Linked DNA regions of Homo sapiens. The protein of the gene in region 2 purifies or fractionates together with the protein of the main gene of each other region. This does not show direct contact. Each region holds a gene or a part of one and is shown on either strand. Other genes may lie near its edges.

The links.
Region 1: the proteins of WDR25 (region 2) and LRFN3 purify together in Homo sapiens (affinity purification with mass spectrometry; one large-scale study listed by BioGRID and IntAct). This does not show direct contact.
Region 3: the proteins of WDR25 (region 2) and LRP6 purify together in Homo sapiens (affinity purification with mass spectrometry; one large-scale study listed by BioGRID and IntAct). This does not show direct contact.

Annotation. Positions count from the first base shown.
Region 1 is NC_000019.10:35,939,360-35,943,010, reverse strand, and holds part of LRFN3 (leucine-rich repeat and fibronectin type-III domain-containing protein 3 precursor), read right to left. Parts: intron 3,602-3,651; 5' UTR 3,586-3,601; coding exon 2,171-3,585; intron 1-2,170. UniProt on the Homo sapiens protein: Cell adhesion molecule that mediates homophilic cell-cell adhesion in a Ca(2+)-independent manner. Promotes neurite outgrowth in hippocampal neurons.
Region 2 is NC_000014.9:100,463,475-100,467,125, forward strand, and holds part of WDR25 (WD repeat-containing protein 25), read left to right. Parts: intron 1-3,651.
Region 3 is NC_000012.12:12,257,016-12,260,666, reverse strand, and holds part of LRP6 (low-density lipoprotein receptor-related protein 6 isoform b precursor), read left to right. Parts: intron 1-3,651. UniProt on the Homo sapiens protein: Component of the Wnt-Fzd-LRP5-LRP6 complex that triggers beta-catenin signaling through inducing aggregation of receptor-ligand complexes into ribosome-sized signalosomes.

The DNA.
Region 1 (3,651 bases), on a different chromosome or scaffold from region 2:
GTCACCCAGGCTGGAGTGCAGTGGCACAGCCTCGGCTCACTGCAACCTCCGCCTCCCAGGTTCAAGCAATTCTCCTGCCTCAGCCTCCTGAGTAGCTGGGACTACAGGCGCGTGCCACCACACTCAGCTAATTTTTTGTATTTTTAGTAGAGACGAGGTTTCACCGTGTTAGCCAGGATGGTCTCAAACTCCTGACCTGGTGATCCACCTGCCTCGGCCTCCCAAAGTGCTGGGATTATAGGGGTTAAGCCACCGCGCCTGGCCGACTTGTGTGATTTTCAGGGGCAGGACTTCCGTGCAATCTTCCGAGTCATGTCTGAGAAAGGGAGTAGAATGAGCTCAGTGGGTTGCCAGGACTGAAATGGAAATCAAGTGGCCTTTTCTTGAGGTGTTGGCCCCAAGGGAGGGAAAGGACATCCAGGTACTACTAGGTCCCCAAGGAACAGTCCTCAACCCTGGGGAGGTCCAGTCTTTACAGTCAGCCTTGGGGCTGCACCCTTGGCCCAGCCTGGCCGTGAGGACAGGGACTCACCCACAGCCGCAGTCCATCCATGCAAGGTTGGACTTTGGTAAGAGGTGTCAACAGCACCTAGGTCAGCAGCCACCACTGCTGACCACATGCGGTCACTGCAGATGTGCTGAGTGCTCTCCAGCTTGGGGGAACAAGTTGGACTGAGCCACCTCTTGGAGTGTGTAAACCCCAGGTTCTGTGTTTGCAACAACAGGAGAGAGAAGAGAATCCCCCACAAGTGTGGCAAACTGGATATTTCTGTTTACCTGGCAAAAGGAACTTGAACTAGGTTTGATTTGATTTAGAAAATAAAAAATCTGTCGGGCGCGGTGGCTCAGGCCTGTAATCCTAGCACTTTGGGAGGCCGAGGCGGGTGGATCACGATGTCAGGAGATCGAGACCATCCTGGCTAACATGGTGAAACCCCATCTCTACTAGAAATACAAAAAATTAGCCGGGCATGGTGACGGGCGCCTGTAGTCCCAGCTACTCGGGAGGCTGAGGCAGGAGAATGGCATGAACCTGGGAGGCGGAGCTTGCAGTGAGTCAAGATTGTGCCACTGCACTCCAGCCTGGGCAACAGAGTGAGACTCCGTCTCAAAAAAAAAAAGAAAAGAAAAAATCTACACTGGGTGTGGTGGTTCACGCCTGTAATCCCAGCACTTTGGGAGGCTGAGGCAGGTGGATCACCTGAGGTCAGGACTTCTAGACCAGCCTGGCCAACATGGCAAAACCCCGTCTCCACTAAAAATAAAATGCAAACATTAGCTGGGCGTGCTGGTGCACGTCTGTAATCCCAGCTACTCGAGAGGCTGAGGCACAAGAATCGCTTGAACCCGGGAAGTGGAGGTTGTAGTGAGCCGAGATTGCACCACTGCACTCCAGCCTGGGCGACAAAGTGAGACCCTGTCTCAAAAAAAAAAAAATCTGGATGTCACTATATTAGAACTTGAAACATGGAATAGTTCACACCACACACACCGAAGCCCAGTCTCTATCGAACCTCCTCCCTGCAATTTCCTTCTAACCTCTGGTCTGATTTCTTTTTCTAACAGAGCTGCTTATTTCATTGTTTCTGGGCTCCCTGTGCTTTCCTGTTTGATCTCCTTTTCTTCCTGCAGCCCAGCTAGTATCTAGTCCTGTCATCTGGAAAACCTGGTGTTTCTCTCTTTATCTTTACAACTTAAATTTATTTTTATCCCCTTATCTTCCCCACCCACCCTTGCCCATTAACATTTTATTCTTCTGCCCTGATTACTTTCTCCTCCCGCTGCCTGGTTTCCTTTTTATGTTTGCTACTACTATTTATTCTTGCTGCCTAATTTCTTTTTACTCATGCAGCCTGATTTCGTTTATCCTTATTGCTTGATCTTTTTTAGCCCTGTAGCCTGATATATTTTAACATTTGCTGTCTCATTTACTTCGTCCTTCTTGTCTGACTTCTTTTTATCACTGCTGTCAGATTTCATTGACCCTTTCTGCCAGAGTCTTGTTATCCTTGCTGCCTGATTTCTTTTACTTTTGCTCTCTGATTTCTTTTGGAACCTTCCAGCATCACTTATCAGTTGTGCTTCGGTGTAGGGTATTAGTAGGTGTACCCTCAACCCTCCCCTTGCCTCACTCCCCCACCCAAGCTACCCCAGTGCCTGGACCCTGCACCTGTAGACGAGGATGTCATCAGCCGAGCTGTTGTACTGGATCTGGTACATGCGGATGCCCGGGATAGGCCGCTGATCCGGCCACTGGACAAGAGCAGCTGTGGCCCCGTGCTCAGTCACCTGGACGCCACGGTCGGTAGGGGGCCCAGTGTCGGCCACCTTGGCAGAAGCAGAGGCAGCGGAGGGTGGGGTGAGAGCATCAGGATCCCCGTCCCGCGGGGGGTCACAGCTGGTGCTGTTGGCTAGCTGAGGAGGTGGTGGGGGACCCACAGTCAGCTCCACAGCAGCTGTGGCCTCGCCAGCTGCATTGGCCGCAATGCAGGTGAAGATGCCACCATCACCCGGCTCGGTGACCAGCAGCTCCAGCGTCCCATTGGGGAAGGCGCGGGCACGGCTTGAGTTGCCTAGCAGCCGGCCCTGGGGTGACACCCAACGCACACGGGGCTCTGGGTCCCCCACTGCCCGGCAGCGCAGGGCAGCCGGCCGACCTGCGGGCACAGCCAGAGGTGGTGAGCGGTGAGTCACCACGGGCGGCTCGCAGACAAACTCCTCCTCGCCCACCGCCCAGAAGTAGCGGCCGCCCAGAGCAGGTGGGGACGCGCAGGCCTCGAGGTCGTCCTCCCGCGCCAGGCGACGCAGCCACACCAGCTCGCAGTTGCAGTGCAGGGGGTTCCCGCCAAAGGCCAGCACCAGGGCAGAGGCGGGCGAGCCCCGGGGCCTGGCGAGCAGGGGCAGGCGGGAGAAGAGTGGGTCGGGTGGGATTGTGGTCAGGCGGTTGGAGGTCATGTCCAGCCGGGCCAGCTTGTGCAGGCGGGAAAAAGCGCCGGCGGGCACAGAAGCCAGCAGGTTGTGGTCGAGGCCCAACGTGTTGACGTTGCCCAGGCGGCCCAGGGCCTCCCAGGGCAGCTGCTCGAGGTTGTTGTAGGAGAGGTCGAGGTCCTCCAGTGTCTCGGCACAATCATCCAGGGCGCCGGCCGCCAGCGCTGCCAGCTGGTTGTTGCTGAGGATGAGGTGGCGCAAGTTGACCAGGCCGCGCAGCTGGCCCTCGCCCAGTGAGGTCAGCCGGTTGCCATCCAGGTGCAGGGCACGCAGGGCCCGCAGGTCGGCGAAGGCGCCGGCAGCCACGTGGCGGATGGTGTTCCGCGACAGGCTCAGATGCAGCAGGCCTGTCATGTTGGCCAGGTCGCGGCGGCGCACGGAGGCGATGAAGTTGTCTGCCAGCCGCAGCTCGGCTGCCCGGCGGTCCAGCGAGGGTGGCACGAACAGGAGGCCTGCCCCTGGGCACAGCACGCTTAGGGGCAGCGACTGTGTCTGGCAGCGGCAGCGGCGGGGACATGGGCTGGGTGTGGCTGACTGGGGTGGGGATGAGGCAGGGGCCAGCGGCAGCAGGCACAGGAGCAACGGGAGGATGGCCATCGCGGGCAGGGGTGTCCTGCGGAGAAGAGGGGAGGCGTGAGGGCAGAAGAGGGGTTCTGCAGGGGC
Region 2 (3,651 bases):
GTTTCTCTCTCTCCTCCCCTGGTTCCCAGCCTGTGAAACTTGGAGGCCTGGGGCTGAGATGTGGGACTCCTCTCTGTCCTGTCTGCACTTGCTCCCTAGGAGAGCTCATCCAGCTCAAGGCTGCGGCACAATTTCCACAATGGCATCCACAGCTCAGCCTCTACCCTGGGCCTCTCTTTTGAACATCACACTGGTACGGGAATGAGTCTTTATACTGTCTGCTGTCTGTCATTCAAAACTGAGCTCCAGGTCCTCCTTCCCTCAAACTTACCCCTTCTGCAGGCTGACCCATCCCTGCAACTCCACCCCTTTCAGTGCTTGGGCCAGGAACTGCGAATGTGTCCTGGGCTTTTCCCTTGCCCTCATATCCTACCTCCAGTCCAGGGAAGTCCTGTTGGTTCTACCCTCCAAGGCAGGCCACTTCTCTACTGCCTCCCACTGTTCCAAGCCATTTCCTCTCTCCCTGGATTCTTGCAGAAGCCTCCTGATTGTCTTCCTTCATCTCTCTTGCCCTTCATTCTCCTCCCTGCATGGCAGCTGGAGTGGTCCTACTGCAGTGGAACCAGCCCTCATTCCCCTCCGTTCCACCTGCAGAACCCTGGGATGCCCCAACGGCTTGTGGTTTTCCGACTTCATCCCTTTCTTACCACCTCCCTGCCAACCCCCAGCCTTGCTCACTTCTCTAGCTGCAGTGGCCCTTCTTGCTGTTGCTTGACCATGCCAGGCATACTCCTGTCACTGCCTGGAAGCTTCTTCCCTCAATTTCTACATAGCTGGCTTTCTCACCCCTTCAGGACTTCCTCCAAAGTCACCTCCTCAGAGAGGTCCTCCCTGGCCACCATTTCAGCCCCTTCCCTTGACCTTATAGAGCCCTTTCCTGGTTACTTTTTAATACTTCAGTCTTCACCACTGCCTTAAGGACTGTGGATTTTTATTTGTTCAGTGTCTGTCTCCCTCACTAGAATATAAACTCTTTGAAGGCAGAGATTTTTGTCTTATTTGTTTCCTGTTACACAATGCCTGGCTAATAGCAGGTCCTCAGGAAATCTTTGTTGAATGAATGAATAAATGAATGAGTTTCAGAGGAAACATTTGGGCATGTTTTCTTCGGAGAGCATTTTCCATCTCTCCCTCTCCTCATCTCCCACACCCCATCGCATCAACCCAGTGCATTTCATCTCCCCCACCCCATCTCATCTCCCCTACCTCATCTCCCCTCCCCATCTCATCCTCCCCTACCCCATCTCATCTCCCCTACTCCATCTCATCTCATCTCATCTCATCTCATCTCATCTCATCTCATCTCATCTCATCTCATCTCATCTCATCTTCTTTTACCCCATCTGCTCTCCCCTATGCCATCTACTCTTTCCTACCCCATCTACTCTCCCCTACCCCATCTCATCTCCTTTACCTCATTTCATCTCCTCTACCCGATCTGCTCTCCTCTACCCCATCTCAAGTCCCCTACTCCATCTCCTCTCCCCTACCCCATCTCATCTCCCCTGCCTTATCTACTCTCCCCTACATGTTCCACCCTCTCTTTGGAAGAGCTGCTGCTTAGTGTTCATAGCTTTTCCCTCTAGCCCTGCCCCTTTCCCTCCCTTCCTAGGAGTGATGGCCCTCCTCATGCATGTTTTTATAGCCTGGCTACAAATTCACGTATAAATGAGATCTGCTTTTTTTTTTCTTTGTGTGTGTGTGTGTATTTTTAAAAACTGTGGCAGAATAATACACAGCATAAAATTGACCATCTTCACCGCTATTAAGCATACAGGTCAGTGGCATTAAGCACATTCACAGTGTTGTGCAGTCTGCACCCCATCTGTCTGCAGAACTCTTTATCTTGGAAAACTGAAACTCTGTCCCCATTAAACAACTCCCCATTCCCCCTCCCCCAGCCCTGGCCACCACCATTCTACTTTCTATCTATCTCTATGATTTTGACTACTCTGGGTACCTCATATAAGTGCAGTTATATAGTATTTGTCCTTATGTGTCTGGCTTATTTTACTTAGCATAATATCTTCAAGTTTCATCCATGTTGTAGCAAGTGCCAAGATTTCTTTCCATTCTAAGGCTGAATACTATTCCACTGTATGGATAGAACACATTTTTACAATTCATTCATCCATCCATAGACACTTGGATTACTCCCCTCTTTTGGCTATTATTAATAATGCTGCTATGAACATGGATGTACAGTATCTTTTTGAGACCCTGGTTTCAGCTTTTTGGGCATTTACCCAGAAGTGGAATGGCTGGATCATGTCATAATTCTACATTTAATTTTTTGAGGAACCATCATGCTGTTTTTCACAGTGGCTGCACCATTTGACATGCCCACCAGCAGTGGACAAGGGTTCCAGTTTTTCCACATCCTTGTCAATGCTTGTTATTTTCTGTTTTTTGATAGCAGCCATCCTAATGGGTACAAGGTGGTGTTTCATGTAAAAACTTAAATGGCATTGTACTTCGTATATGCAGCTTGACTTATGTACTTAATATTAACTTTTTTACCATTTAACCATGTAAGCCCTGTAGATCTCGTTTATTTTACTATTTAAATAAAATTAAACTCATATTCATACATATTTTTGGAAAACAGCAGTTCCCTGTGCCCCATCTCCCTCCCGTGAATTCTTATTCCACTTTGAAGTCTTCTGGCTGTGTCTTCTGGCTGTGTCGTGTTTCTAAATGTAAATACTGCTGTTTCTTGATTTTTTCAGTTTGAGACCCCAGCTATTGACCCTTAGTGAGGAAGAAAGGAACTGAGCTCTCTTCACATTTTTTGAAGGCTACTCTTGACCTTTTGTTTTCTTAAGTGTAGACATTTACATAATCCCAGGAAACAAGGTTTCAGAGCTCTGATCCTTTGCATTCTGAGAACATTCGGGACTTGGCAGGTTGAATTTTCTTGTCTTTAATGAGAAGGTTATCCCTGGGATCAGGTTGGTAGAAGTGCATGGGTGTACTTTGTTTGGGTTTTTCTCTTATTAAAGAAAATGAAGCTTGGTTTTCCTAATGGAACAGGTCTGGAATCCACATCCAGTTGTGTGCCAGCCATTATGCCATGTGCTGTGCAGCCATTACCTCCTCAGCCTTCACCACTGCCCTCGGGGTGGCGCTCTTCTTATTCCCACTTCAGGGAGGAGAGGACTGAGGCCCAGAGAGGCAAAGCCACTCAGCCAAGGCCCGAGGCCTGCCAGCAGCCGTATCAGGTGGGAGGCACTCCGTTCTGACTCCCACACGCTGGCTGCAAGTGCTCCTCTGCTTCTCGGGTTCAGCCTCTGAGCCACCTGGGTGGTAGGTGAGAGCACTGCCCTCATCCTGCAGTGACAAGAAGGTAGGGGACTAGCACTGCTGAGTACCTCTGTGTGTCAGGCCCTGGGCCTACCCTGACATATTCCAAACTCTCCGGCAGTTCCCCTGGGCTGCACGGTGTGTTTGGCGGCATTTGCTGGGAGAGCTGGTGGAAAGCTAAGCTCAGGGGCTCTCACGTGGTGTGGCCCTGGCTCTGGGAATGTGCAGTTTTATACTTGATATCTTAGATCATTTTTCAGAAGTCATTGAGTGTAACAGGGTTTTCTCTCATGAGCCTCATACCCTCATGAAAGGCCAGCATGGGAAGGAGGGAAAGCACCTTCTCTC
Region 3 (3,651 bases), on a different chromosome or scaffold from region 2:
TAGAACGCACAGTCAATAGTAGACATTGAATAAATGGTTGCTATTATTAAGATGGCCGAATTAAAAGAAACATTATACTCTGGAAAGACTGGTAAAACATTTTAAGTGTCGCTATGTCCTGGGCACTGTTTTTGGCAGTTGATAGTTTTAGGCCAGTGGTTTTGGAATTTTTTTTGATTCTTCTGCAACTGGAATAAAAGCTCCATAAAATACTTTTACTTATGGAAATTTCTGTTTTGTTTGATATAAAACGGAATGACACTAAATTTTTTTTCTTTTTTTTTTTTTTGAGACGGAGTCTTGCTCAGTCGCCCAGGCTGGAGTGCAGTGGCGTAATCTCGGCTCACTGCAAGCTCCGCCCCCCGGGTTCACGCCATTCTCCTGCCTCAGCCTCCCGAGTAGCTGGGACTGCAGGCCCCGCCAACACGCCCGGCTAATTTTTTTTGTATTTTAGTGGAGACGGGGTTTCACCATGTTAGCCAGGTTGGTCTCCATCTCCTGACCTGGTGATCCAGCCGCCTCGGCCTCCCAAAGTGCTGGGATTACAGGCGTGAACCACCGCGCCTGGCCTAAATTTATTTCTAAAGGATTGCAGCCATAACTATTTTAGGTGATGATTATTATAAATAAGCTACAGAACAGACAGTTCAAATGATTGTGATACTTATTAAAGAGTTAAGCATGGGCAAAATAATTTTATCAAGACATCTAATTGAGAAATTGCATTATTTGTTTACAACAATTATTCAGTTGGTGGATTTCTTTCTGCAGGATGGCTGAATGCTATACTGAGTTTCTGCATTGCATGTTTTCACTTCGGATAAGGGTGTTTATCTTCTATAAAGTAAGCCTCACTTCAGTGAATAAAACACTGTTTTATATGAGTAACTTTGAAATTTAGTCAAATATACAGACTAGGCAATCTAAGAACAGGCTGTTTGCTCTTAAAATTATTTATTTTAAAATACAATTTGTCAGTACATAAATGCAAGGAAACAAGGTTATTTGGTATTATTAACATATGCTTTTGTTTCTCAAGCTGTTCGTGTTTGCGGCAGTGAGTATTCTCACTAAAGGTTCAAGCTGTTCGGGTGTGAGGCTAGAAACTTTTAAAATGTGCTTGGACTCTTCGGTGAAAATTATTGATACTTTGATGCTGTGATCCTTTTAGCGGTATCATAACTTGTAGTTTCTGTAATATCTTGCTTGGAAGGACCTTGTATAAGTGCTTAAATATTTTGGAACTAATTTCAGGAGGAGATTGGGGATGCAAAATGAAATTATATTTTTAGGCAGAAAACTACATTAAGTTATGTAAGTTATTAACACCAGGCCTAAAGTTATTGATGAGACTCTCAATAAAAATAACATGACCAGCAGTAGTCTTTTTTTTTTTTTTTTTTTGAGATGGAGTCTCGCTCTGTCACCCAGGCTGGAGTGCCGTGCCATGATCTTGGCTCACTGTGACATCTGCCTCCTGGGTTCAAGTGATTCTCCTGTCTCAGCCTCCCAAGTAGCTGGGATTAGTAGGCGCCCACTATCATGCCTACCTAATTTTTGTGTTTTTAGTAGAGATGGGGTTTCACCATGTTGGCCAGGCTGGTCTCGAACTCCTGACCTCAGGTGGTCCACCCGCTTTGGCCTTCCAAAGTGCTGGGCTTACAGGCGTGAGCCTGCTGCACACAGCTGTCATTTTTTTTTTCCCAAGAAAATAGTCACCCAAATATTGGAAACCTACCTTTATCAAATTATGTATGTTTAACCAGGAGGCTATTTTCTCTAATGGTCTTAGTCATTGTTTTATCACTACAAGACCCAAACTACAAGTAAAGGACTGCAAGGGATAGGAGTCTTCCTCACTAATGATTAGCTTTATTGGTACGTATAATTTAAGTACTGTATATCCATATATCCAGTTTAAAGATACTATGTTTTGCAAGTCTGAGAAAGGTGACGAGTGAACTTCATTACCATGAATTCTTAGCTACACATTATATTGTCTTTATTTGTAACCTTCTAGATTTATGCTAATGCAGAAATAGCTCTTTGATGAAAAGTTTTTGAAGAGTAGACCTTTTTCCCCTTTATATGCACCATGTACCAGAGGTTTGCACATATTGAGCACTGTAAATTTTACATTTAAAGTAATATAAAAAGATGTGAATTTTTATGACATTTATTTGGAATGCCATTTTGTGTTTTGACTCAATCGTTCATTAGCTATAGTTAAATTATAAATTTGTAACGATTACAAAGATTTCTTAGTCTGGGTCATGGTGGCTCACACCTGTAATCCCATCTCTTTAGGAGGCCAAGGCGAGAGGATCACTTGAGGTCAGGAGTTCAAGACCAGCCTGGGAAACATCTATAAAAAATTAAAAAATTATCTGGTCACGATGGCACATGCCTGTAGTTTCAGCTGCTTAGAAGGCTGAGGCAGGAGGATCACTTGAGCCCAGGAACTCAAGGCTACAGTGAGCCATGATCATGCCACTGCACTCCATATCACAGACAAAACCCTGTCTTTCAAAATAAATAAATAAAGATTTCTTAGCATAGATTAGATATGTTAAATAGACTACTAAAAAATCAGCATATTCATATCTGAGATTGAATTCAAGGTGTGGACTATGTAACGTGTTTTCTGGTTTTAGGATATAACTATTGCACTGATATAATTAGTTTTTTTTTTTTTTTTGAGACAGGGTCTCACTGTGTTTCCTAGGCTGGAGTGTGGTGTGATGCTATCATGGCTCACTGCAGCCTGGACCTCCTGGTCTCAGGCGATCCTCCTGCCTCAGCTTCCAGAGTAGCTGGGACTATAGGCACGTGCTACCACGCCCGGCTCATTTTTAATTTTTTTTTTTTTTTTTTTTTTTTTTTTTTTGTAGAGACAGGGTCTTACTATGTTGCTCAGACTGGTCTCGAATTCCTGGGCTCAAGTGATCCTCCTGCCTTGGTTTCCCAAAGTGCTTGCGATTACAGGCATGAGCCACCATGCCTGGCCTCAAGTACTTTTTTCTTTCTTTCTTTTTTTTTTTTCATTAAGCCCTTTCTATCAAGTACTTTTTTTTTTTTTTTTCCTTGAGAGGGAGTCTTGCTCTGTCGCCCAGGCTGGAGTGCAGTGGCGTGATCTCGGCTCACTGCAAGCTCCGCCTCCCAGATTCATGCCATTCTCCCGCCTCAGCTTCCCAAGTAGCTGGGACTACAGGCGCCCACCACCACGCCCAGCTAATTTTTTTTGTATTTTTTTAGTAGAGACGGGGTTTTACCGTGTTAGCCAGGATGGTCTGATCTCCTGACCTCGTGATCCACCCGCCTCGGCCTCCCAAAGTGCTGGGATTACAGGCGTGAGCCACCGCACCCGGCCTGTCAAGTACTTTTTTAAACCAAGTTTTTTGGAGCTATAATTCACATACAGTAAAAATCTCCATTTTACAATGTCTAGTTCGGTGGCTTTTAGTATACTCACAGGGTTGTAAAACATCACCACTATCTCATTCCAGAACGCTTATCATCCCCTGCTCCCTCAAAACCCATACATTTCCCATTTCTCCCTTCCCTCAGCCTCTGGTAACCATGAATTTACTTTCTGTCTCTATGGATTTGCTTACTCTGAATATTTCATATAAATGGAATAAAATATGTGGC